Linked DNA regions of Homo sapiens: region 2 is linked to region 1. Evidence: fine-mapped expression QTL. Tissue or cell type: whole blood. Region 1 holds a variant in brackets; the other region holds the start of a gene. All regions are shown on one strand. Distances are from middle to middle.

Region 1 (2,752 bases):
TGTTCTGCTGCCCAACCTCAGTCCCCATCCCCGTCCCCAGGGGAGTCCCACTCCCTCCTCTTCCTCTCCACCCAGCTCCAGGGGCACTTGAGTCAGGCCCGGCCAGGCTGAGTGCAGCCTCCTCTGCAACTAGTTCAGGAAGGGCAAGGGACCCAGTGGGAGCCACTGGAGTTAACCCAAGACTTGGACTCAAAACTTGCAGGGAAGAGAAATGCCCTCCATGCTTCTGGCTTGGGAGTTGAGAGGACCAGGCCTGGAGCCACTGGTGACCATCTTGCCACTATGAGGGGAGTGCCTGCTGTGAAGTGAATCACTGTAGAGCAACGCAGGGCCAGGGGTCCAGACAGCTGCGCTGCTGACACTTCAGCTGTGCCTGAAGCTTGTGTGGACTTTTTAAGTTATGTGAACCAATACATTCTCTTTTAACTTAAGCCGGTTTGGGCTGAATGATCTGACACTGGGAGACAAACGATGTCCTAACTGATACAGCTGTTTAAAAACAAAACCAGGCTTATGACCCCACCCCCACCACCCCAGAGAATCACATGCAGAGATCCGGGGTGGGCCTGGGCATCCATGTTTTTCTTTTTTCTTTAGGGGGGCAGGGCCCCACTCTGTCACCTAGGCTGGAGTGCACTGGCACAATCTTGGCTCACTGCAGCCTCTACCTCCCAGGCTCAAGTGATCCTTCTGCCTCAGCCCCCACTCCCCCTCCGAGTAGCTGGGACTATAGGCATGTGCCACCACACTGGGCTAATTTGTTTGTATTTTTGGTAGAGACCAGCTTTTGCCATGTTGCCAGGCTGGTTTCGAACCCCTGAGCTCAAGCAGTCTACCCGCCTCAGCCTCTCAAAGTGCTGGGATCACAGGCGTGAGCTACCACATCCAGCCTGCATCCATGCTTTTAAAGGTGACCCTGGCCACCTGGCAAGTTTGGGAACATCTCAGTGTATCCTGACCTCCTGATGGCTCTACACACCCCAGATTCTCTAGGCCCAGGTTCTTAGGATGATGGGGCTGGGGAAAAGGGCCCCAGCCCAGCCTGAGCACCTGGTGGGAGTGGGCTCTGTTTGGAGGCTGGTGGTAGCATGGATGCAGACAGGCCCTTGAGAGCAGGGCTGAGCACAGCCGGAGGGACTGTGAGCCTGGCAGGAAGACTGGGCGCACAGGGGACAAACCTTCATCCAGGGCTCTGCTTCCAGAGCTGCTGTCTGACTGCCAGGCTCCCTCTGGAGTGGGGTCTGGGTCTCTGGTCCCAGCATCTTCAGGTTCATTACTCTTGTCTCCTGGCTCTGGGTTGGCTAGCTGCGGGGTTGGGAGCTGGGAATCCTCTGACCTGCAGCCGTGGGAGAGACACAGGCATTGAGGAGGAGAGTACAGGACTCTTCCATTCCCCACTGTACATGGGCAAGCTGTCTATGAACACCCATTGTCACCCTGGCAGAGTCAGCTTCCCACAGTCCAGGAGGAAGTGCTAGATACTCAGATTCCCAGCATCCCTTGCAGCTAGGGCACAGGCATGGAACCCAGTTTTAGCCAATGGGACTCAAGGCAAAATCTTCTGCAACGGATTTTCATCCTTATAAAAAAAAA[C/AC]CTCTAGGAAAAGAAATGCCCCTTCCTTCCTGCCTTTAGACATTGTCATGTGAGAATGTGATGTTTGGAGCTGCAGCAGCCATCTTGTGACATGAAAAAATGTCTGAGAGAATTACTGAATAGCTGAACAAAAGCCTTAATGTCTTTTAGCTGTTGAGTTCATCAGCCCTAGGGCCACCCATCTCTGTACTTCTTATTATAGGGGAATTTTAAAAAAAGTTTTCATTGTTTCAGCTACTTTTTGTTTGTTTGTTTGTTTTTAAGAGATAGGGTCTCTATGTCACCCAGGCTGGAGTGCTGTGGCATGATCTTGGCTCACTGCAGCCAAACCTCCCGGGCTCAAGCGATCCTCCCACTTCAGCCCCACAATTAGCTGGGACTACAGGTATGCGCCACCACACCCAGCTAATTTTTGTATTTTTTTGTGGGGACAGGGTTTTGCCATGTTGCTTCCGCTGGTCTCGAACTCCTGAGCTCAGGCAATCTGCCTGCCTCGGCCTCACAAAGTGTTGGGATTACAGCCATGAGCCACTGCACCTAGCCTACTTTTTTTTTTTTTAATTTTTTAAATAGAGACAGAATCCTGTAATCCTAGCACTATGAGAGGCAGAGGCGGGTGGATGACCTGAGGTCAGGAGTTCGAGACCAGCCTGGCCAACATGGTGAAACCCTGTCTCCACTAAAAATATAAAAATTAGCTGGGTGTGGTGGCACACACCTGTAATCCCAGCTACTTGGGAGGCTGAGGCAGGAGAATCGCTTGAACCTGGGAGCCCAGGAGGTGGAGGCTGCAGTGAGCCGAGATCTACCACTGCACTCCAGCCTGGGCAACAGAGCCAGACTCCATCTCAAAAAAAAAACCAAAAAACAAAAAACAACAGAATCTCACTGTGTTGCCCAGGCTGTTCTCAAACTCCTGGTCTTAAGAGATCCTCCAGCGCCTTGGCCTCCAAAAGCACTGGGATTTCAGATGTGAGTCACCACACCCAACTAGTTTAAATTGCATTTCTGTTCCTTGCCCCCGAAAGCCTTTAATTGAAACATCTCCCTTCTCTGGGCTTTGGGGAACCTACATTACACCCCACCAATCACTTTTCTTGATATTTTAAGGGCCTGACCTTTTGAATATTCATTTTCCATTTCCCTGCAGTTACAAGAT
Region 2 (2,500 bases), 91 kb before region 1:
AGGGGTAAGGGGTGCTGTCAATTCCTTCCCATCTTCGGAGCTGGGAAGCCCAGTCCTGTTGGATCTAGTATAAGCTTCTTACAGATGTTTGGGTCTCCTTTCTCTGAGGCGCCCTGGTTCACTGGGCCAACTCAGGAGTTGGTCTGCCCTTCCTCAGAAATCCCTTCAAGTTTTTCTGTTCCTCTTCCTAGACTGGTGCTTTTTGGCTGGGTCAGTTTCCCAAATGGGCCTGTAGCTGCTCTGAGCTGGGTCATCCAGCCGTTTAGCAGCTGCTTCAACCACTGCTAGGCTGCCTTTTGGAGACAAGAGCTCCCAGCTCCTCCTTCTGGCCTAGCTTCCCATCAAATGGGGCCCTGGGTCCTCTCCTCACAAGGATTTTGGGCTCCTCCGCAGTTTTGTAGCCAGCCTGGATTCTGGCCTTCTGCAGCCTGCTCCCTCCCTTCCCTTCCGCCCCTGGGAAGAGCGACCCCCACCACTCTCGGAGACTGCACTGCCCGCCTGTCAGAGTGGGCACTCAGGTGACACTGCTGTGGTCGTCCCCTTCCTCCGTGATCCATTCCGGAGGGGGTCATTCTTAGTCTAGGCCTGCAGGCCCGGAGCTCCAGCCATGGTCTCCGCCTGTCCCTGACCGGCGGTCTGGGAGGCAGCAGGTAGGGGATCCCGGGCAGGCGGACCAGGCCTGGGTGGGGGGCGAGCAGGAGGCGCGGGACAGCACCTGGGGGTCCCAGCTGATGAAGGGTCGGGGTGGGCAGCGGTTTGGGGGCCAGACGGATCCGCGGTGTGGGCGCGCCGGGGTGTTGATGGAGGAGGGGCCGAGGTGCTGAGGGCGGGGTCGGGCTGGGGTCGGGGCTGAGGGCGGAGTCGGGTGGGGCGGAGTCAGAGCTGAGGTGAGCCTGAGGGCGGAGTCGGGGCGGGCTGAGGTGGGCCTGTGGGCGGAGTCGGGGCGGTGTGCTGAGGTGGGCCTGAGGGCGGAGTCGAGGTCGGGCTGAAGGCGGAGTCGGGGAGGGCTGAGGTGGGCCTGAAGGCAGAGTCGAGGTCGGAGCTGGGGACGGAGTCGAGTTCGGGCTGAGGGCGGAGTCGGGGCGGGCTGAGGTGGTCCTGTGGGCGGAGTCGAGGTCGGGCTGAGGGCAGAGTCGGGTCGGAGTCGGGGCGCGCTGAGGTGGGCCTGGGGGCGGAGTCGAGGTCGGAGCTGAGGGCGGAGTCGGGGGCGGGGACGTAGGCGGAACCCGGGTCGGGCTGAGGTGGGCCCGAGGGTTGGGCTGGGGGCGGAGTGGGTGCCAGCCTGAGGGCGGAGCCGGGGGCGGGCGGGGGCGGGCTGGGGCGGGCCTACAGGCCAGACTGGTGTGGCACGGAGCTGAGGACCGGCCGGAGCTTTGCGGAGGGCCCGGCTTGGCGGGTCCGGGGGGGAGCCGAACCCGCGGGGCACCGGGTCCGGGCGGGGCCGAGCCGGGCCGGGGCGGGAGCCAGCCGGGGTGGGGCGGGGCCGAGGCCGAGGCAGGCGGTCGGCAGTGCTGGGGGTTCAGGTGTTGCGGCGGCTCCACGTAGCCAGGCGGCCCGTGGGCTGGAGCGGGCGGAGCTCGGCCCGCGGCTTGCGTGAGCTCAGGCCGGTCCCAGCGTCCAGAGCGCCGGCCCTTCGGCTTCTTCTAGGCCATGGCAGGGCCGGGCCCAGGCCCGGGGGACCCGGACGAGCAGTACGATTTCCTGTTCAAGCTGGTGCTGGTGGGCGACGCAAGCGTGGGCAAGACGTGCGTGGTGCAGCGCTTCAAGACCGGCGCCTTCTCGGAGCGCCAGGGAAGCACCATCGGCGTCGACTTCACCATGAAGACGCTGGAGATCCAGGGCAAGCGGGTCAAGGTGGGAGGCCGGCCAGGGCCCCTGGAAGGCGCTCCCTCGGAGGGTGGGGCGGGGGCAGCGGAGCCCCTGGCCGCGGCGAGCGCACCCCGCGTCCATCTGAAGTTTCCTTTGGCTTCCCCTTTTTCCTTCCTCGGGTCGGAGCAGGCCTGGGCCCCGGGGTCTGGGCCGGGTTCAAGTCCTCAAAGCGCCGGCCGTGGGTTGCTGGGGGGGGGGGGGGCGAGGGAGTGTGGAGGAGGCGGCCCTGCCCTCCGGAGCTCACACCCTAGGAGGGGACTGTGCTCCAAAATAACTTTAGCCATTGGAAGGCAGGGGGTTAGACTCCCCTGTTCCAGGTACTAGCGGAGCGCCTTGGAGTGCGGAGATCAGACCCCCCACCTCCATCCACCGCGATGGCAGCCCCCAGCTCAGCCCACCGGCGGGGCACTCAGCCAGAGAACTGCATCCCCACCCCAGGACTAGGAGCGATCAGGAAGTAGTTGCTTTTAGGACCAGAGGGCCAAAACTTTTTGTCAGAATTTCCGGCCTGGCCACGCCTCCCTGCAGTCTCTTTGTGGACCTGGTGGTGGAACTTTACTCGACTAGGGCCAGCCCCGGTTCCCTCCCCCAGCTGGAGTTTGATAGAAACTGAAAACTTCACAGATACCGG

What was found. PIP is the estimated chance that this variant, and not a neighbour inherited with it, causes the effect.
Region 2: RAB43 starts here. The variant in region 1 is fine-mapped to the expression of RAB43 in whole blood (TOPMed, PIP above 0.99).

Annotation. Positions count from the first base shown.
Region 1 is chr3:129,029,287-129,032,038 of GRCh38, reverse strand. It overlaps EFCC1 (EF-hand and coiled-coil domain containing 1), which reads right to left. Exons shown (of 8, transcript NM_001377500.1): 3 at 1,179-1,336. Among named protein-coding and RNA genes, the nearest start is that of EFCC1, 29 kb to the right of the region's middle. The variant C/AC (reference allele first, on the strand shown) is at 1,594.
Region 2 is chr3:129,120,640-129,123,139 of GRCh38, reverse strand. RAB43 (RAB43, member RAS oncogene family) reads left to right here and starts at 1,336. Exons shown (of 3, transcript NM_198490.3): 1 at 1,336-1,854. The coding sequence starts at 1,651. The region is part of intron 11 of ISY1-RAB43 (ISY1-RAB43 readthrough); the gene reads left to right. RefSeq lists silencers at 1,107-1,326, 1,347-1,526 and an enhancer at 2,307-2,500.